Homo sapiens: one gene and its partners. The protein of the gene in region 4 interacts with the protein of the main gene of each other region in a biochemical or structural test. Each region holds a gene or a part of one and is shown on either strand. Other genes may lie near its edges.

Region 1 (5,133 bases), on a different chromosome or scaffold from region 4:
TCAGGCTGGTCTTGAACTCCTGGGCTCAAGCAGTCTTCCCACCTTGGCCACCCAAAACACTGGGGTTACAGGCATGAGCCACCACACTCGGCCCTTTTTCTTTTAGTTATAGTCTAGGGTTGTTTCAGTTATGCCATTTTGGGACACGTTCAGGGTTTTCATCCTGAGACCTTTGCTATCCCCAAGACTGCAACTATTGTCATAGCATGTAATTCCCTCCATGTGTCTATAAAATGAGAATGATCAGATTTGTTTGACAAGATTGTTTAGAGGATTAAATGAGGTCCTGTATTTAATGAAAACCAGCAAAAGCAGATTGAGATGCTGTGCTGGGTGGTTGACCAAAGACTTACCAGCCAAGGACTCACGACTTCATTCCTTTCTGGTGCTACTGTTGATTTAGCTACAATTTCTACATGACGTCTTCAAGGTAAGTTATGAATAGTTGGAGCCACCGGCATTCAAATGCAAATATGATAGATCTACTGCTGTTATGGCACCTAGAGGTAGTAACTGGTTATGTAGGATTCATTTTATTCAGTTATTTTAAAGGTATTTTACCTGATCTGGTATTTTTGGTTGCTAATGTAACATACTATATCACGTCTAATTGCTTCAGACTGAAAAACAGTCTGAAGCAAGTGAATGATGAAGATGTCTGACATTTATTGAGCACTTACTATGTACCAGGCAGTATTCCAAGCACTATACCTACATCAATTTATTTAATCCTCACAATAATCTATTATTGATACTATTTTTGGTACTATGATTGTTTCTATTTTATGATGAGGAAATTGAGGCCCATATAATTTAAATAAGTTGCCCAAGGTGACACAGCCAATAAGAACAACAACAGAGATTTGAATCCAGGCAGTTTGACTCCAGAGCCCATGCCTTGGATCTTTGGAAGATAATCTGATATAATTGTACGCTATCTGTACCCTACTTGTATTCTGCTCTACTGTTCATGAAATTACGTACGAAGCTGCAAACTGAGTTCTAGATGCAGAATGAGGGTACATAGCTTGCGATAGTGTTTTGACTACACAGGATAACCCTTGAAAATGGGCTTGTTGCAAAAATTTAGAAAATTTTGTTACACAGAGATAGTAATAATTAATAAAGTTTAAGTATTTCAGGAAATATTAGGGGGTGACACCAGACTACAAAGTGATGAGTCAGCAACTTAGTATACTATTTAAGAATCAACACTACCTGGAATGTAGTAACTGAAGTGTTGTGTTTAGGAAGTTGAATACAGGTAAATCACATAATTTATAGTCCTTTACTTAGAAAAGCAAAAATAGTATCTTTCTTTTCCATTCCTTTTAGGGATGCTACAAATAACAACAACATAATAAACAGAATGTCTGTTATCTATCTAGTGCATACTCTGTGTCAGTCCCTTTGCTATGTCCTTGTTCCTCTAATTGGCAGGACTACTCTCTAAAGTAGGTGATAATTATCCACTTTACTGATGAGGAAATGGAAGCACAGACAAGTCCTTTGCCCAAGGTCACAGAGGTGGTAAATGGCCAAACAAACAATTGATCCCAGGTTACTTTGACTGGAAAACCTGTACTCTTTTCACAACCCAGTATTGCCTCTTTGGGGGGAGTTCTCTAAAGGAAAGATGTTATATTCATGCTTACTGAATCCTGTGTTAAGACATATGTTTGTCACTAGTCTTGAAACAGATTATAAATATTCAAAACTAGGACTGTTCCAGAAAACCTAGGATATTTCTGTTACCATAGAGATGTAATGATGGGCTTAACATAATCTTCCAGGAAAAACAACTGGGTTCTCCCAGCGCTCCATGGCCTAAGGAGTCAGCCACTTATTCCTGCAGTTATGAAGCAGCACCACCCAGGACTAGAGCAACTGAAATACTATGGAGAACTGGCAAGAAGACCTTAATTACAGTTTATTTTGGGGCATCACAACTTGATAAGTGAGAGGGAATATACTGAAGAACTTGAGTAGAAATGAAGTTGATTTTCATGTTGTGCATGATATGAGGATTTTATAAAGATAAAGAATTTTTATATGAGTTGTCCTAGCAGGACCACTTAGATATGACACATTTTTACAGTTTTATAATATGCATTCTTGAACCTTTTTGAAATAGTATCATACTACCTTTCTGCAAATGTATTCACTGTGTTCTTGCCAGATTCCTAGCAACACCTTGCCATCTGATGGTTATAGCAGATGATTTTGAGGTGCAATCATAGGTGGAAGGTCAGAAGCCAGAGTTATGAAGCATAGTGGCCAACAAGGTGATGGGAGAGGGGTCATGGTTAAGAAGATGTTTCTGGCTAGTGTCCATGTTTCCCATAGAGGCCACTTTGTAGTGGAAATAAACTTGGCTTTGGAATAAGATAAGCTTGAATTTAAACATGAATGCACTTACTAGTTGTGTTATAAAGCAACTAATTTAACTGTGGTTAGCAGCTTTTGAGTTTCTTTGGGATAGGACTCTCAACTTCCTTTTCTGCAAAAATTGCATTCATTTTCTCACAAGATGGGGTAATAAATATATTAAAGCCTCTGACTTTGTGTCTTGCATAGAGTCACTATTCAATAAATGTCAGTTCTATTCATTTTCCTTTTCTTCCTTTCCTTTCTCTCTTCCCTTCTCTTTCTTTCCTCTCTTTCCTTCTCTTTCCTTCCCTTCCTCTTGGCTATTGAAGGTGACAATGGTGAAGTAGTACTTACAGTACAGTGTGGTAAGTGTTCTAGTTAGAAATGCATACAGCTTATTGTGAGATTGCTGAGAGAGCAACTGCCAGGGAAAGTAGGAAGGTGACAGATAAGCTAGACCTATGGCTGAGTAGGAGTTTGCTAGGTTAAGAAGAGACTGAGGGCTGGGTGCATTGGCTCATGCCTGTAATCCTAGCACTTTGGGAGGCTGGGCCTGGTGGTGGGCACCTGTAATTCCAGCTACTTGGGAGGCTGAGGCAGGAGAATTGCTTGAACCTGGGAGGCAGAGGTTGCAGTGAGCTGAGATCATGCCACTGCACTCCAGCCTGGGTGACAGAGCAAGGCTCCGGCTCACAAAAAAAAAAAAAAAAAGAAAAGAAAAAGAAGAAAAGAGAGTGTGGTGGGGAGGAAACGTTGAAGGATGTTTCAAGTTCAAAGCCATGGAGGCAGGGAGAGAAGGGATACCAGGAGAATGGGGAGGCCAGGCACGGTGGCCCATGCCTGTATTCCCAGCACTTTGGGAGCCTGAGGCGTGTGGATCACAAGGTCATGAGTTCAAGACCAGCCTGGCTAACATAGTAAAACCCCATCTCTACTAAAAATACAAAAACTTAGCCGGGCATGGTGGTGGGTGCCTGTAATCCCAGCTACTCTGGAGGCTGAGGCAGGAGTATCGCTTGAACCTGGGAGGTGGAGTTTGCAGTGAGCCGAGATCGCGCCATTGCACTCCAGCGACAGTGTAAGACTCCATCTGAAAAAAAAAAAAAAAAGAACGGGGAAGAGACTACTGAGTTGGCACACAGGACAGGTAAATTATGGTTGGTGGCGCTGCTAATGTAGTGGAGTTTCACCAAAGACCAAAGGTGAAATGAGGCTACAATCTGACCCTTTATCTTGGAGGCTGCCCTTTATCTTTGAAGTTTCTCAATATTGTAAGTGAGATAATGAAATTTCTCTTTAGGATAATAACACTGCTCACAGTATGAAAGATGGGTTTGGGGTTGATTGGCATACTTGTTTGCACTTGTGTGTACAGAGGAGATAACATATATTAAAGCTTTTTTGGTAAAAGGTAATGGTACTTGTAGAGATGGTGCTGCTATTCAAGACTTCTATAGGAGAGTACATAATGTGTTGGAAAATGGTGACTCCATATGCTAATTTATGGACTGGATCACATTGGAGCCAAATTGTTCCAAAAATATAAATATGTCTTACCTTGAGTTAAGCATGTTTACCACTTTTCAACAAAGGACCAGGTGTGTTTCTGGCAAAATGATTGAAGCTTGAATCCAGAAAAAAAAAGTTTAAGGCCCCTTTTTGTATTTCCAAAATTGAGTTTAAGGTTCTAGGGATAGTAGATACCTAATGCATGCTGAATTTGGTTAGTGCTTTGTAGAATTTCTTGTGCTTAGCATGCACTATTGTGGTTAGCAGCTGTTGAGTTTCTTAGAGGGAGGAGCAGAGAGGCTCAGACTACAAAACTATCATCTATGGGAAATGGCAAGAAGCTAGGTGGCCCTTCTCCCTAAGCAGTCAGGATCAGACCCAGGTACACACAGATGTGTGTTTCTGTGTTTCTAGCCCTGTGTTTATGTTTTCCGGATAGTTGCCTGCTTTATCTATGCTGGAGGGAAAACCCGACATTACCTGGGTTCCTTGGGGAAAGCCACTGGGGAGATTAGCCTTGGTTACTAGAGGTGCCTCAATGTGAAGACAGTCACCTGCATCTGCACTTGAACTATTAATAATGTGTGGCCAGGAGCCAAGGGTGTGGAGGAGACGTGGCTCTACCGGTCAGATTCTGCAGGGGACAGATGTGACCCTGTTGTGGAACTGAGCACAGGTATTTGCTTGGTGTGTGAGGAAGTGAGGAGGGAGTGGATGTGTTTGTTTTTTTCCTTCTCTGGCATACTTTTTCCAAGTCCACTCTCTCAGCAGCCAGGAACTAAAAGCAAGTCTTGGGCTGACATTCAGTGCATAGGGAGTAAGTTGTACCTTTTAAATTCCTGGGGGCCAGGCATAGTGGCTCATTCCTGTAATCTCAGCAGTTTGGGAGGCTGAGGTGGGAGGATTGCTTGAACCCAGGAGTTTGAGACCAGCCTGAGCAACATAGCAAGACCCCATCTCTACAGAAAAATAGAAAAAAATTAGCAGGGCATGTTGGTGCACACCTGTAGTCCCAGCTACTCAGGAGGCTGAAGTGGGAGGATCACTTGAGCCTGGGATATCAAGGGTGCAGTGAGCCATGATTGTGCTGCTGAACTCCAGCCTGGGCGGCAGAAACCCAGGAAACTCTTGGAGACATCCTACATTGGGGTTTTGGAATACTAGACCTTTGAACCTGGACTCTTTCATGTGCCAATCCCCAAGCCCTTTCACTGTGTTAGTCAAGTCTCAGTCTAGTCCTTTGATAGATTCTGG
Region 2 (5,183 bases), on a different chromosome or scaffold from region 4:
GGAGATATTCTGGACTCTCTCATTACTCTGGGTAGTGGTTAAGATGCATTGCCATCCTGCTTCCTGCAGGTTCTCCTTCCACCATTGTTTCCTCAAACATGTTGCCCTCTTTCTTTCCTTCTCTGTTTAGGATGAAGGATACTAGCCGCAAGAACAACATGTTTGCACAGTTTCGGAAAAATGAGCGAGACAAGCAGAAACTCATTGACACCGTGGCCAAGCAGCTCCGAGGACTCATCAGCAGCCACCACTCATGAAGGGTGACCCCGGACCCACAGAGGCGACCTGCTGCAGCCTCTGTGTCAGTCTGGGGTCCAGCCCCAGCTGACCCTGCATTTGTGCATTCTTCTTCAAAGAGAGCATATGTATTTTTTTATTAACCCCTGTGCAGTATTCACATAACATTTCCCTATAGTAAAAGAGGCACAAGAATAAGCAAGTACATGAGATGTTGCTAGGCTGGGACTCAGGGGAAGTTATTACTACACTATCTGTGTTATCTTAGAGATGGTGGTATCATCAATTCCACAGTGATGAACCACCTTTCATCCATGGCTCTAAAGCTTAGGTCTGGGGCTTAGGAACCATAAAAAGTGGGTATCTGGCGCTGGGAGGTAGAGTGAGTAAGCAAAAGGATACTAAAATATGTCCTGTTCACTCTTGGATGCCCATTCACCACATAGATGAGGCTGATTCTTCTCAATACAAGGAAAGGGCATGGCAAACATTACTATTTAGTACACTAAGGGCAGCTCTGGAGGGTCATCTCCTCAGTCTGCTGACTTTCACTGGCTTGTGAACAAGCATGGCATATGGCAAGATGACAGCTTCATTCCAATCCCCCAAGAATGGCGGTTTCTTTAGCCTGATCTAACCCCAGGCTTTTATTGCAATTTTTTCTAGGGCAGGATACAGCTAAGTAGACAGCAGTAATAATTGGATCCCATGTTTAACTGCATATTGCCCCAGCTCTAGGAGTGTTGAGTCTCAACTCGAAGAGTTTTTCTGGATCTTGAAAGCCAGTTTTCATGGAATCAGAGACCCAATCCCTTCCCTGTTCATCTCATTTCCTTCACTTACAGTCAGAGCACTTGGTTCAGGACATAAATCAACAGTTACTTCCATAGGCCTTCACAGGGCGTTTCAGACTTAGCCTCCTCCAGTAATGCCATTGAAATAGTTCAGATTTCGGAAGCCTAAAAATGGCCTTTACCTTACCCTTAGGTGTAACCTGAGGATTAGTTGGGATTGTTCCTTTATGTTTTAAAACCAGCTTTTTGGTTATCATCTTTAAGGAAATGTCACCAGCTCTGCACTGTGGGGGCAGCCATGCCTGGACTGGATGCCTCTAGGGATGGAGACATTGTTACCATAAAGTCGACAGAGCCAACCATGGCTTGTGGCTTGTTGCCTCTGGCCCAACTGTCCTTCACTAAATAATATCCTAGATATTATTTTGTTGCTCAAGCCCAAGGTTCCCACCCTCTTTTGAGATCCCCAAAGCCATCTTTGGCCTTGTCTAAGAAAGATTGCCTATAATCCTGTCCTCCAAACTCTAAAGCCTGGAGCAGCTTAGCGTGGAGGCTGCACTCATTGACCCAGATGGACTCCTGAGACTTAACGCAAGGGCTTTGCTATGAGGTCAGTCGGGGGAAACTGTACTTTAAGACACTTCAGAAAGATGCTACTGGCTAGTAGCAGAAAGATGGCTAGTGGCAAGAGTATAATTGTGCATCACCAAACAATGACAAATAAGCCACACAGGCATTTCCAGCTTGGATTGATGGGAGGAGAGACTCATCAAACAGAATTCTTCACTACCTTTGTCAGCTACTGAGTTGCTTCTGGGGAGGGAAGTACTTCCTTGCCCCTCCCCAACCCCCCTACCTCACCATATCCTATCATATCTTGATAGTCATGGGGAAGAGGATGTGCACACAGACATACAAATTTCCTCAAAGCTGGAGAGACCAGGCTACATGTGAGCTCATAGATGCTGCTGAGGCTCATCCTGAGGGCTGGATGGTTGGCCAGGGTTTCAGAATGAGGGTAAGGGATGAGCACTGCCACCCAGAACTTGATAAGCCAAGAGAAGGCAGGAGCCAAAATGGCATCGCCAAGCTCTCATCTTTGTTGAAACAAGTGAGAAACGATTATATTAATCTGAAGTTCTATTGCTTGAGAAGAGTTCAAAACACTTCTCTTTGCTAGTACCCAGTTTGCAGCAAGATCTCTTCAGCTTTAAGTGCTGAGAGACTTTGAAGTGGAAATGGAGAGATGTGTAAGCATGGCACAGTGTTTGTCTTTTTAGAGGATCATCATTGCTGGTCTGGTCTCAAACCTCTGCCTTGGAAGAACTGTGCTATACAGGAAAAAGTGAACAAGGTGGAGGAATAGGGGTTATTCTGCACAGAAGTCCCATGAAAGGAAAAGCTTATTCAAGCTCAAGACATAAAGATGGACCCTTTGATATATCTTCTCTCCATTCTTAGTCTGCCTTCACCTTATCTAACAAAAAACAACATGCAGCTACTGAGTTGTATGTAGAGACATACTCTTGGTGGGCCAGGGAAGGTAAAAACAGGGACCAGCAATGTCAAGTTTTTGAACTAGAAAAGTGGGATGTTTTTAGTTTTGTCTATAACCTGTAGCTGGGCCAACCCTTGAGAGGACTTGTGCAAAGCATGTGTGCCCAGACCCATCAGACTCCTCAGATATGGCCTCAAATACCTAGAGATGTAGAAGTACCGTGGAGGGCCTCAATAAGAGGGCAAGCACACAGATGGCTAGAAGCCTGTATGGCTTCTGGTCAGGATGAACCCTTGGCCAAGTTCTTGAGGAAACCAGGTCTATATTCCTGAAGGGACAGTTCAGTTTGGGACTCTATTAGGTTTCAGTAGTAATATAGGCTGCTTGCATCATTTTAACATTCATAGGGAAAATCTCTTTGAGCAGGCTATAAATGAAGCTGTTGCAGGTAGGGAAGAACAGGACCTGAAAATGGGAACCAGGAAGTGAGATCCTGTTGGCAAAGGGAATGTAGAGCTTCCAGGGTGCATTGCCCACTGTTCTCATTGCATACCAGTCCTCCAAGTCAGTCTAGCCTTACTGTACACTTGACAAGTGCTTACTCAGCAAGTCCCAGACCCACGGCCTTTTATCTCCCAAGACTGGCTTTGGCCATGACCTTCCTCATCAGGCCTCTGAGCACACTCTCTAGGAACTGCTGCAGAAATTCCCCTACCTTAGCCTCCCTTCTCCCAGGACTCCTCTCTTGACTGCAATTGCCTCTTCTTCTTCTTCTTCTTCTTCCTTTTTGTTTTTTTTTTTTTTGCCTGCATTCACAATTACTTTTCACAAAGGTGTTGGAAATGGCATTTTTATTTTACACAGATAGTTGCACATATATAGAGAAAATTAGGAAAGTCCATTTTTAACTCTAAAGGGAACTTTTTTCTCTAAAACTTACTTGTAAAGCTACTGATACAGATGGGCCGCATGGTTAGGGGAAAGCTCCTCTGTGAAAAGAGCATGTTTATTCCTCTTGTACATTTTCCTCTTTTAACTGCTATTAAACAAGAAAGCCTACATACCTGTTTCAAAAGCCACGGTGTTGTCTCATGGGTATTTTGTTCTTCCATCCTTTTTGCACAGTGCAGCTGTGGTTGGTGAACTGGATGGCTGACATTGCATCCCCACTCAGCTGGACTGAGGACTAGAGCAGGCAAGAGCCTAGTGGGGAAGAGAAAGCCTACCTTCCACACAAGGCAAGGAGCCGTACTGTGGCCTTGGAAACATCCCTAACCCCTGGGTTACGTTTTTTCCTGCTTATGCAGCTAACACTGGCATCATCATCAAGAAGAACTTTTTGAAATGCTTGAGTTATGTGGAACACTGGGCTAGGCAACTTAGAACGCAATGTTGAACACTAGCCCTGCCAAGGAAAGGCTCCCAGTCAAGATGGAGTGTTGTAGGATTATCCAGAACAAAGCCAGGCTGGAGAAAAGGGAGAGATGAGCCTATTTTAGACTCAGTGCAGGAGGGGTACAGTCATCCTGGCCTAGTGAAGGAAAGGGTCTGGTTAGGAAAGACAGCTCAGAAGAAGCAGAATGTTAATTAGCTGGGCCTTGAAGGAATGCAAGTCAAATTTTGTTAAGTCATAGGAATGAGTATTTTTGGTGCAGACCATATTAGAGTACAATGTTGGCATGAGCCTGGTATGTTCTGGGATGTAATGAAGAACCTCCTAGGCACATCTGGAACCATGGTAAGTAAGACCAGCAATGCCAGTGTAGCAACACCCAGCCTGCTTGCCCTCCAGGCTAGCACACAAGCAATGGGAATAGACTAGAAACAATTTTCTCCAGTAAGAAATCTGACTACTGCAACTGGGCTTTCATGCCCGAGACCGGGGCTTTGATCTCTGCAATGCCACTTACTAGCCCCTGACCTTGACAATTACTAAACGAGCTCCCTAAATATCATCATCCTCATCCATGAAAGCAGACTGGTAGTCTCCAATTTACAGGTTTGTTGTGAAGTGTAAATGAGCTGTGGAAGGTCAAAATGCTTAGCCAGTATCAAACTGAGCAATAGCACATGCAATATTTAAGGCCTTTTCCTCCCTACCTTCCAATTCCACAACATGCCTCATGGCTGAGCGCTGGACAAAAGTGTCCAGGGCTTCTCTGCCTCCTGACATCCTCTCCCCAAGTCCACTTCAGGATTGGTGATAGCCATCCCCGCCAAGCACCTGTATATGAAACAGAGGGACACGCCTTTCAAATCAGCCAGCCGCCTGGCTCTGAGGACAGCCTATCCTTAACACTACATGGAATCTTCTCTACTCTTACTTTGGTGCCAAAACTTACACCTTCTTCTATTGGGAGTTCTTAACCAGGTGTCCAAGAACCCTTGCAGATGTGTGTGTGTGTGTGTGTGTTTGCATGCATGTGTGCATGCCATCCATTTTTTTCTGGAAAGAAGGTTCATGGCTTTCATCAATGTCTATGAAAGATTCATGACTAAAGTACTGAATAATAACCAAATCCCTTCGGACATGTAGCTCTCCCCATGGGGGAAAGCCAGAAGCTCTAAGCAGTGACTCTTCTCCCTGCCTCATAGAGCTCTGACAGATTTTTCAAGCCCTGCTGGTCTGCCACCCACCTTCTCCAGGAGCCTCC
Region 3 (5,133 bases), on a different chromosome or scaffold from region 4:
CAGCGCCACAGCAGGATAAGGTAAACAAGAACTGGATCAAAGTGACATCTTTCTGATTTTGGCCATGCTGCTGAGATGTGTGTGGGCACATTCCTCTAGCATCCTCTTCTCAACGCTCTTCATCTGTATACATATGTGTGTGTGTATCTATACATAAATATGTACAGATACATCTAAATTACCTGGTCAGTCATGGGAAAGAAGATTTTATTTGATATATGAAAAGCTACATCCTTACTATCAATATTCAGTAATTTACAAATAATATGCAACTTTGACTTACCTTTTAGCTTCACTTTTTGGATCATCACATGGTTTAATGATCTCTGTGACACTGACATTTTCCTGGGGACTATCTTCCAATTCTTTGGCACTGTCTTGATTTAAGTTAGTATCTTCTGGATCAACCTTTACTCCTTCTCCAGGTCCATTTACATTGAAATTGTCATCATAATTCTAGGTAATAAAACATATGTGCCGTTACAAAATAAATATAATACTACTACTAGCTTTTTATGTTATGTTGCCAAATAGTTATATACCTTCGGGAAATAAAAAGGAGAAGCAGGTAAGTTAAGAACATGGATGCTCATTACAGTGATAGTAAATTAAGGGAAATCTGAAAAGAATCCAAATGTTCAAAAAGTGAATGGCTGAATATATGAAGAAAAATTCTGAAGTGCTTAAGTATCATGTTTCCAAAGATACTCAATTATGTGAAAAAATACTTACAACATATTAGCAAAAGTAGAAGAAAGAAAATTATACATAGTGTAATCACAATTTAATTCTTTATTAAGTAATCTCTACAGGTAAAATTAAGGATGATACTTTTCCATATTCCAAATGATAAGCAATGAGCAACTATTCTTCTACAGTCACAAACAATGGCAACAACAAACAGGCATTATAAAAGAAAGACGCCTGGCAAACATATCCTAAGCGTACCTGTCTGTTTTCAAGCAACATTTTGGCACATTTGTGCTCGCTCTCTCCATCTCTTCTCTCTCCCAACACACACTTTTTTCCCCAAGCCATCTGAAAGTGAGCTGCAGGCAGATATGAATCTTTGCCAGGTACATCCTAAGAATCAAAACATTCTCTGGCACAATACTCACACTCAAGAATCTAATGCTAATATTATCTGTTACACAACCCACATTCAAATTTACCAATTACTCCTTTTCCTGTATAGGGATATACAGGATAGGGGGTGTAATCAAGGATCACATGTTGCATTTAGTTGTCAGGTACCTTTAATCTCCTTTATTCTAGAGCAGCTCCCCCACTTTTTTTTTGTCTTTCATGATGTTGACAATTTGATGTTTTGTAGAGTGTCCCATAATCTGGCTTTGTTTGGTTGTTTCCAAATGATCAGATTCAGGTTAAACATTTCTAGCATAATACTATAATCCCGGGAAGCAAAATGAGTTTGTCATTTTTCAGTGATATTATTAAGTTTGATCATTTGGTTAGGGTGGTATTGCCAGATTTTTCAACTGTAAAGTATGTTTTCCCTTTTTAAATTAATAAGTAATCTGCAGAGTGTGACTCTGAGACTGTGTGAATATCCTGTCCCCATGACCATTTACCGAATATACTTGGCATCTATTAATGATTCTTGCCTGAAACATTTATATACTGGTGGATGTAGAAGAGTGATTTTCTCCCTCTATTACTTGTGTCATTTGCACTTGTACTAATTAATATTTTTCTGTAATAATAAAGCTTTCCTATCTCCTTTCTCCAACTTTTTTTTTTTTGAGACAGTCTTGCTCTGTTGCCCAGGCTGGAGTGCAGTGGCGTGATCTCAGCTCACTGCAACCTCAGCCTCCCAGGTTCCAACGATTCTCCTGCCTCAGGCTCCTGAGTAGCTGGAATTACAGGCGCATGGCACCACGCCCGGCTAATTTTTGTATTTTTAGTAGAGATGGGGTTTCACTATGTTGGCCAAGCTGATCTTGAACTCCTGACTTTGTGATCCACCCGCCTTGGCCTCCCAAAGTTCTGGGATTACAGGCGTGAGCCACCGCACCTGGCCAGCTCTCACTATTTTAAAAGTCAATATAGATACATAAATTTCTTTTTAACAAATGCAATGTATGAAGATCTATTACCCTTATTCCTTTTGATGACTCAAGTTTTCCCTAACTGGCAGGCCCCGCAAGCTGGATCTTGAGTACTTCTAACGTATCCCCATCAGTTTTTGAGCACTTCCTTAGTTTCTAGTATAAGATGCTCTAGGCTCACGTTCCACTTTCCTAGTCTCAGCCCTGAAATCAGGTATTTCTCCAAAGAGCAAGCCTGTTTCCTTTTCATGGAAAAGTGAACTTAAAAACCAAAACGTGTGCATTAGGTGTACTCACTGCTAGGGGTGTCACTGCTTCTAGGTCCTCACAATGCACACTGCTCACACACTTACTTTCTTTAAATCATGGGCTCATACCAACATCTCCACTTCAATCCAACTCTACAGTATTCTTCTTCTCTTTTCCTCAATTTATATTTGTATTTCCCTCTTCCCACAAAAAGAATATGGTTCCCAGCTACAATTTATTCATTTAATTCCTTTTTTTGGGGGAGGGGTCAAGGATCAAATAATTTAATTTTATTAAGATGTCAATACAACCTACATTGTGAACAAATTCAATATAATTTCTATAAAAATCCCAATAGCACAGGATTTTTTTTTACAGAACTATTGCTTAAAATTTTTAAATTTGATTATGAACTATAACTAGCCAAGCACTCACGAAAAAGAGGAGGCATTATACTTCCTGATTTCAAAACATATTAAAAGCTACAATAACAAAAACAATGTGGTACTGACACAAAGACAGAAAAACAGATAACAGAACAGAATACGGCACAGAAATGAACTCTTCTATATATGATTAAATGATCTTCCACAAAGTTGCCATGAGCACATGATAGAGAAAAGATAATCTCTTCAAAAAAAAAAAAAAAAACATGGTGAAAACTGCATGTCTACACTGATAAAGCTGGATCCTCTCCTTGAATCATATACAAAAAATATTTTAAATAAAATACTTACACATAAAAATAACTAACAAACCTCTTAGAAAAAATATAGGGGAAAGAAATGACATGGGTCTTGGAACCATTTTCTTAGACACAACATTAAATATGTGATTAACAAAGAACAGAAAAATTTAACTACGTGATACTTCAACATTTCTGCACATCAATGCCTCCTCTATGAAATTGGTGAAAATATACTCATTTACTTTCAAAAATACCACACCAATACCACCAAAAAACATACTAAATTCAGGACTTACTTTTTTGGCAGTTAATTTTATCTTTCAACTATATCCCTTGGAAGGTATTCAGTCAGAGTACTATGTTTGAGTTACTTGAATTAAATTTTCTTTCCTGTCAGTCAGGGTCATTTCTTTCTATTTACATTCAGTTTTAATCTGGGAGGGTTTTCTTGTACAATTCCTTGTTGGTTATGGAATTTTTCTGGCCATACAGAAAACTTCCCCAATCTCAAGTTTCAAGATACTCATTATTTGCTGCCGTCTGCTCTTAAATCTATCAGTACATTTCTCCACACTGCCCTTCCCTTCAAAAAGAGCTTAGAAAATATCAGGAAAAGTGTTACATCAAGCTAGGTCTGAACTTGCTACAATCAGGAATCATAAACGAGAGATGCTATAAAGGAATATAGCTTTTGAGAGAAACGATGGGGTGTTCATTTGAAGCATTTTCATCAGTAAGAAAATACTAACGTATGTGTTTATGGTTGCAATCAATAGAATCTATGCTCCATTAATCAAGGTAATACAGGCTCAGGTTAAACATAAATCTCTCTCCATTTATTTTGTCCTTACTGTAATGGTACTGACATACACAAAGGAAAGAGAAAGTGTTCCAAACTAATAATTATAAGGTGTTTGGATGGATGATGGTAGATGTCAATTTATAAAAAGAACACATATTTGCTATGCGGTTTTATAACTGAAGCAAAAAGTTCCAAATTACAATTTTAAGTGATTAACTCATGTGTCATATATCATTTTTTGAATAGGAAACTGATTTTAAAAAAGACTATTAAATATATTATTATAACCATTTGGATAAATAAACCAAATCTGAAGTTTTATTAAAAAGCATTAATGTGTTTTCTTAAAAATATTTAATACTTAATGTAAGTTAATATAACTAGATTATACTAAAATGCCATAAATCCAAATGTCCTTGGTAAAATGGACAAATTCACTTTATTTTTATAGGTATAACAACATAATACCATTTTATTTAAAAATAGTCCTTAAGACAGAGAATGAATTTGGACTTCAGCTGTGAAATATTTAAATTACTTAAACTTCAGAAAAATAGAAACATTTTTTCAAGACTCACAATCATTACAAGTTTCTAACCAAATGTTCCTTTTGCAATGTTTATGTTGTTGGCAGAATAAACTGAGATAAAAAAATGACCAATCCCAGATTTTCCTATTTCAAGATTTTAATTGTTGTCTTGACTTAAAAGCCTTTTGTGAGATGTATTCAGATTTTTAAAATACTGAAAATTCAGCTAATTCATACCAGGGGAATTCTACATGCATACTTGTTAAACACACTGGCAGTCATAATTAAGTTTGTTATTACATACATACAAGGGGGGGGAAGCACTAAAAAAGGAAAATATTTCTAATTCCTTTTTAATCAATCTTACAATCAACATAAAATTATGGAGTATAAGTTTCTCTCCTTAACACAGACTACACTGAATAAATAAGAGCACTGCAACTTTATCGTTGGCATTTAATGTTAACAAAACCTTTCTAACATACCTGTGCTGGTTTCTGTTTCTTTTTCTTCTGTTTTTTAGAAAGCCTAAGAGCAAATATAAATCGAAATGTCAAATACTTGACTCTGTGAAGAGTAAGTGGAAAAAAAAAAAAGTTGAAACACTAGTGATAAAGTAGTAAAACAGAAGTAAAAGATTAAAAATATTTAATATCTTAAAGCATTAAAAGGAAAATAAAGTATTCACATTGTCATTTTAGAGAATAACACAAGGCTGTAGTTCAATGGATAGTAATTAGCTTATCAACTGCCAGGTATAAAAACTGCTTTTAATATAGTGATAATATGTTCTATA
Region 4 (5,601 bases):
CCCAACTAGGAGTAGTCAAAGGGGAAGAGTGATGGTAAAACGTAATTGGTTCATTGGCATAGAAATGGGATAAACACGCCGGGTGCGGTAGCTCACGCCTGTAATCCCAACACTTTGGGAGGCCGAGGTGGGTGGATCATGAGGTCAGGAGATCGAGACCATCCTGGCCAACATGGTGAAACCCCGTATCTACTAAAATACAAAAAAACAAAAAAACAAAAAACAAAACAAAAAAATTGCCGGGCATGGTGGCACGCGCCTGTACTCCCAGCTACTCGGGAGGCTGAGGCAGGGGAATCGCTTGAACCCGGGAGGCAGAGGTTGTAGTGAGCCGAGATCGCGCCATTGCACTCCAGCCTGGCAACAGAGTGAGACTCCGTCTAAAGGAAAAAAAAAAAAAAAAAAGAAAAAGGAGAAAGAAATGGGATAAAGAAAATTCTTTTTCTTTCTTGAGACAAGGTTCACTGTGTCACCCAGGCTAGAGTGTAGTGGCACAATCACGGCTCACTGCAGCCTCAACCTCCCAGGCTCAGGTGATTCTCCCACCTTAGCCTCCCAAGTAGCTGGGACTACAGGCACCTGTGACCACGCCTGGCTAATGTTTGTACTTTTTGTAGAGATGGGGTTTCACCATGTTGGCCAGGCTGGTCTCGAACTCCTGGCCTCAAGCCATCCTCCCGCCTTGGCCTCCCAAAGTGCTGGGATTACAGGCATGAGCCATCGCGCCCGGCCAGAAAATTACATCATTAGGCTTGTACATGGAGGAGTTAGTAATGCCTGAAATTTTTCCTCTTTGTAGAATTCAGGGTCAATCCTGTTGATCCTGTGTTTTTTTAAGGACCAAATCACCATCGTCTCCTGAGGATAACTCGACAGACACAATTAATTCATTAATGTAGATATTATCTTTCTTTTGATGGTCACAGGAGAAGTGCCTTGAATTGAAGCTTTATCTCTTCCATTGTCACCATCACTAGGCAGGTGAGGCTGACAGGACCGCGTGGCTTAAGGCAACGCCTCGGGAGGGAGCAAAAATGCATCCACTGTGGAGATGAGGTTTCGGTTGCCTCCATTCTTTAAATAGCGCAAACCCTCACAATGTCAAAAGAATCATATTTGAATTCGAACTGCAAGTAAGGAAATCGAAGTATACTAGAATTGATTTCCAGCCTGAAGGCGGATGCTGAATTCAGACCAGCAGTGACACTCCAGGATTTCCACGGTAGTTCATTAAAGGAGGAGAATCTGGGACTAAACAGACAGAGTCTACACCCGCTTATCCTGCACCAAAAAACGCCGAGATGTTCATCGGCATCGCGTTAGTCACATTAGCAGCAGCAATCGCATTATCAAAAACTGCAACACGCATGTAAATAATAGCTACTTTTCCACCACGTGTCGTCGGCCGGCAGTGGATGCCCCCTGTAGGATCCCTATAAGATGCCTTACAGTTCCCCACGGACATCTGCCCAGGCGACTGGGAGTCCCAGGCCCCACCCCACCCTCCAAACCCCTTCTTTGGCGTTCAATACCCCGCGCTCACCGCGGTCTCTTGCTGCCCCCTGCCAGGCCCCTAGCGTCGGGCTGCGAAGGGCTGAAGTACCGCCACGAGGGGGCGCAGGACCAACGACATCACCTCTGCGCGCGACCCGAGGCCGGAAGTTAGTCTTTTCCACTTCCGCTCCTCCTAGCCGCTCCGGACCCCAGAGGCGGAAGTAAAAGCGAACTACAGTGGATGGGTGCAGTTCAGGGTGAGATTGGGAAGGTGGTGAGGCTGTGCTTTCCTTTCTTTTTGTTAAGAAGTGGGTGTGGGTGACTGCTGTACAGTGCAGCCCTTTGCAGATTTGTCTTTGGAGGAGGAAGAGGGATGGAAAGAGCCTTCGGTGTGGAATTACCTTGGTTTTGAGTTAAGAAAGACCCACCTGGGTTCGAACCCTAATGCTTCAGCTAGCGAAGGCAGGCTAGTATGGGAGCTCGGCGCTGTTTCAGATTTTGTAATTTTAAGGCTTATGCCTACCTTTTAAATTGTTGTGGGGAGTAAAGCGAGACAATATATATGAAGCACTTAGCTTTGGTACAAAACGTATTCGTGATTCCGCTACCTTTTCCCATCATATGTAGGCATGTACTTGCCGTTTTCTTTTCTGTATGTCTGAGAAATGTTGTTTGCAAGAGGTAATGCATCTCACGAGAACATAATGCAACGAGAACGTTAGCTGGGATCGATCTCTTATTTTGTATTAGGAAGGCCTGAAATATTTTGCCTTTTTTTTGTGTGTGTGTGTCATTTCCAGAGATAGCTGTTCTCCAGCCTTTCTGGAGGGATGCAGAGCCTTTCCTTAGGACAAACAAGGTGAGAAATGCATGTAAAGATCTCCAAACTTAGCTTGCTGTATCAAAAGAAGACCAGCTGGAATGTGGTATTTTAGGGCCAGTGATTAGTTATTTCCATTAACAGCCTTTTTAACAGGCCAGTTGTGGGGCAGAGGCGAACGTAAATCTTTTTTTAGACCCCTCATACTACAAGCATAGAAATTTTCAGTGTTTGTTAAGTTTGAACATTAGCCCTTTGGATAATGGTTTTGGTTAATTAAAAAGTCAATTTGAGAAATAGATCGAAGTCAATTTTTGAATAGGTACCATTTTTGAAATTTGTACGTGAGGAAAGTTGCTAACTTTCTTGTATTAGGCTATTTAGATGTTCATTTACCCTACTAGATATTATGAGTATTTTGAATGGAGATCCGTTGCTAAGAGTAAAGCATCATGGAGAATTTTGAAGTGTGACTTTTTTGGTACTAGAAACCGAAAAATAGATAAAGATAATTTGTATTTTCCATTGTTTTTCACACCAAAGGCCAGTTTTACTTGTTTAAATTTTTTCATCTGACTGCAAAGTAACACATATTCATTAAATAAAGTCCCAGTATTTCAGAAGTAGTACATAGCCTCTAATAATCTTTCAGAAATAAGTGTCATTCCACTTTCCCCCTCTGTATATATTAACGTCCCCCTCCCCGCCTTTAATATACATGGCATTATCCATACTGTTAAGCAGTTTGTCATGTAGAATATCTGACATCTTTTGATTGCAGTAGATCGGCCTTTATTTTTGGCACCTTTATAGTATATTGCATAGATGTACCACAATTTATTAATTATTCTATTGGTGGCCATTTGGGTTTCTTCTTCTTTGTTATAGCAAATAATGTTATGATGGTCATCCTTTTTCTTTCTTTCTTTTTCTTCTATTTTCTTTTTTTATGAGACAGATTCTTGCTCTGTTGCCCAGACTGGAGTGCAGTGGTGCAATCTCAGCTCACTACAACCTCCGCCTCCCAGGTTTAAGCAGTTATTGTGCCTTAGCCACCTGAGTAGCTGGGATTAGAGACATATATCACCATGCCTGGCTAATTTTAGTATTTTTAGTAGAGATGGGGTTTCGTCATGTTGGCCAGGCTGATCTCAAACTCCTGGCCAACATCTCAAAGTGGTGAGATTATAGGTGTGAAGCCACTGTGCTTGGCCTAGTCATCCTTTTTCATAACAAACACATATTGTCTTTTTTTCTTTTTGAGATGGGCTCACTCTGTCATCCAGGCTGGGGTGCAGTGGCTAGATTATGGCTCACTGCAGTCTGGATCTCCTGGGCTCAAGCAGTCCTCCTACCTCAGCCTTCTGAGCAGCTGGGACTATAGGTGTGTGCTGTTACAGTTGGCTAATGTTTTGATTTTTTGTAGAATAAGGGTCTCACTTTGTTGTCCAGGCTGGTCTCAAACTCCTGGGTTTAAGCAATCCTCCCACCTTGGCTTTCCAAAATGCTGGCATTACAGGTGTGAGCCGCTGCCCCTGGCCCTTTTTTCCCCCTTTGGATAATCTCCAAGAAGTGGAAATGCTGAATTAAAGGCTATGAACATTTAAAATTGTGGCAGCTGGTGCCAAATTCTGGTCCATTAACAATATTTGAGAATTTCCTCTGTTTCCTCATATGTTCATTAACAGTCAATATTATTAATTACTGTTTCTAAGTTTAGCTGAGACCACACATGTCATTTTTAGAGTAAATTTACTGCATTTTAGTATTGTAATCAAGACCAAATTTCTAGGTTTAGCTGAGACCACACATGTCATTTTTAGATGTCATTTTTAGAGTAAATTTATTGCATTTTAGTATTGTAATCAAGACCAAATTTCAGTTGCCAGTTGTAAGTCCATTTCAGCTCTTGTTTTCTATAAATAGAAAGCTTAGTTTTAGATTCCTTAGTAATAAATTATCATAAAACAAATGGTTGATTTCAGTGGTTAGTATTTTAAAGTAAGTTAAGGATTTGAGGGAAGATTATATTTGAATGGGACCTTGTCCTATGGATAGGCATCAGGAGGATGGGCCTTTCTAAAAGAAAGAACAGCTTAAGCAAAGGTAGGGAGACAGGAATGGGCAAGGATGTTTGGGATCAGAGGTTTGAGAGGCGATAGTGCTAGGTATTGAGGTGGTACAATAGAAGAGATAGCTAGAAAGGTAGTTAGAAGTAGATGGTAAGGTAGTTAGCTAACTGAAAAGGTAGCTAGAAAAAGATCACTTTGAAGATTTTGTTTTTTCGGGGAGAGCTACAGAAGGTCTTTAATCAGAGAATGAGGGACATAATCACATCATTTTACAAATGTCAGTATGGTGGCAGTTTCGAGTGATGGATGTCAGAGAAGCACATCAGGTGGCTGTTACAGGCTGGGTAAAAGAGAATGAAGACTTGTAACAGAATGAGAATTACAAAGAGTAGCGAGGTTGGATTTCAGAGAGATGCCAAAGAAGTTGAGTCTACGTGATTTGATGACTGGAGTTGAGGAAGAGGAAGAAAGCAAAGCTCACTTTTAGATTTTTATCACAAATGACTCTTAGATAGTGATTGTGATAATGATATCTTTAGTCAGAAGAGGGCAAATTTGGGGACTGGGAAAGATACTCAAGTTTGGGGCATGTTAAGTTTGTGTGGAAGAAACTTCCATGGAGGATGAGTTATACACAAGACATGAAATTTACTTGTGACAGATTTAGAAGAAACGTTTATAGATTTGTTACTTTTTGTTAGGAATTTTGGCTTACATTTTCACCTATTTTTAGTTTGTTATTAATAGAATTTCTGTTGAACATTCTGTGGCTTATTCAGCCTGTTTACCATGATGCTAATAGTCCTAAGAAAGTGCACTGTCTAGTAGTCTTCACACTTTTTTGATTGTGTACATTGTCAATAGAAATATGCCTACAATATATGTACATTTGTTTATTGATTATATATGTCTTACAGTACAATCATATTGTTTATATTATAAAACATATGTAGAAAGAATTTTTCAAAGGCTAAGACAAATACAAATTGTAGTTTTAACTATTTTCTTCCTCCATCCCATTGTATCATCTTGGACCTCTCTAGAAAGTACTGATCTGATTTCCAGCTGACGCATTCTGCCCCTTTATTCCAGTAGAGGTCAGTCGAGCATCTGGAAGAGAAAACAGGCTGTTGAACTATGCAAGGTAGAGCCGTCATTCTTCAGTTAGAAGGATAATTATATTTTAAAGTTTCTAAATTCATGCATTTTTGGAAG

The links.
Region 1: the proteins of MTERF1 (region 4) and SYTL2 form a complex in vitro, tested with the Homo sapiens proteins (one large-scale study listed by BioGRID).
Region 2: the proteins of MTERF1 (region 4) and EXOC6B form a complex in vitro, tested with the Homo sapiens proteins (one large-scale study listed by BioGRID).
Region 3: the proteins of MTERF1 (region 4) and DNAJC21 form a complex in vitro, tested with the Homo sapiens proteins (one large-scale study listed by BioGRID).

What each region holds. Positions count from the first base shown.
Region 1 is NC_000011.10:85,800,169-85,805,301, reverse strand, and holds part of SYTL2 (synaptotagmin-like protein 2), read left to right. Parts: intron 1-5,133.
Region 2 is NC_000002.12:72,174,409-72,179,591, reverse strand, and holds the end of EXOC6B (exocyst complex component 6B), read left to right. Parts: intron 1-130; coding exon 131-257; 3' UTR 258-3,608; downstream 3,609-5,183. UniProt on the Homo sapiens protein: Component of the exocyst complex involved in the docking of exocytic vesicles with fusion sites on the plasma membrane.
Region 3 is NC_000005.10:34,945,493-34,950,625, reverse strand, and holds part of DNAJC21 (dnaJ homolog subfamily C member 21), read right to left. Parts: intron 4,905-5,133; coding exon of another isoform or gene 4,866-4,904; coding exon 4,823-4,865; intron 1,084-4,822; coding exon of another isoform or gene 949-1,083; intron 457-948; coding exon 284-456; intron 183-283; coding exon of another isoform or gene 179-182; exon of another isoform or gene 1-178. UniProt on the Homo sapiens protein: May act as a co-chaperone for HSP70. May play a role in ribosomal RNA (rRNA) biogenesis, possibly in the maturation of the 60S subunit. Binds the precursor 45S rRNA.
Region 4 is NC_000007.14:91,876,807-91,882,407, reverse strand, and holds the start of MTERF1 (transcription termination factor 1, mitochondrial isoform 1 precursor), read left to right. Parts: upstream 1-1,705; 5' UTR 1,706-1,751; exon of another isoform or gene 1,752-1,768; intron 1,769-2,294; 5' UTR 2,295-2,324; coding exon 2,325-2,353; intron 2,354-5,429; exon of another isoform or gene 5,430-5,530; intron 5,531-5,601. UniProt on the Homo sapiens protein: Transcription termination factor. Binds to a 28 bp region within the tRNA(Leu(uur)) gene at a position immediately adjacent to and downstream of the 16S rRNA gene; this region comprises a tridecamer sequence critical for directing accurate termination.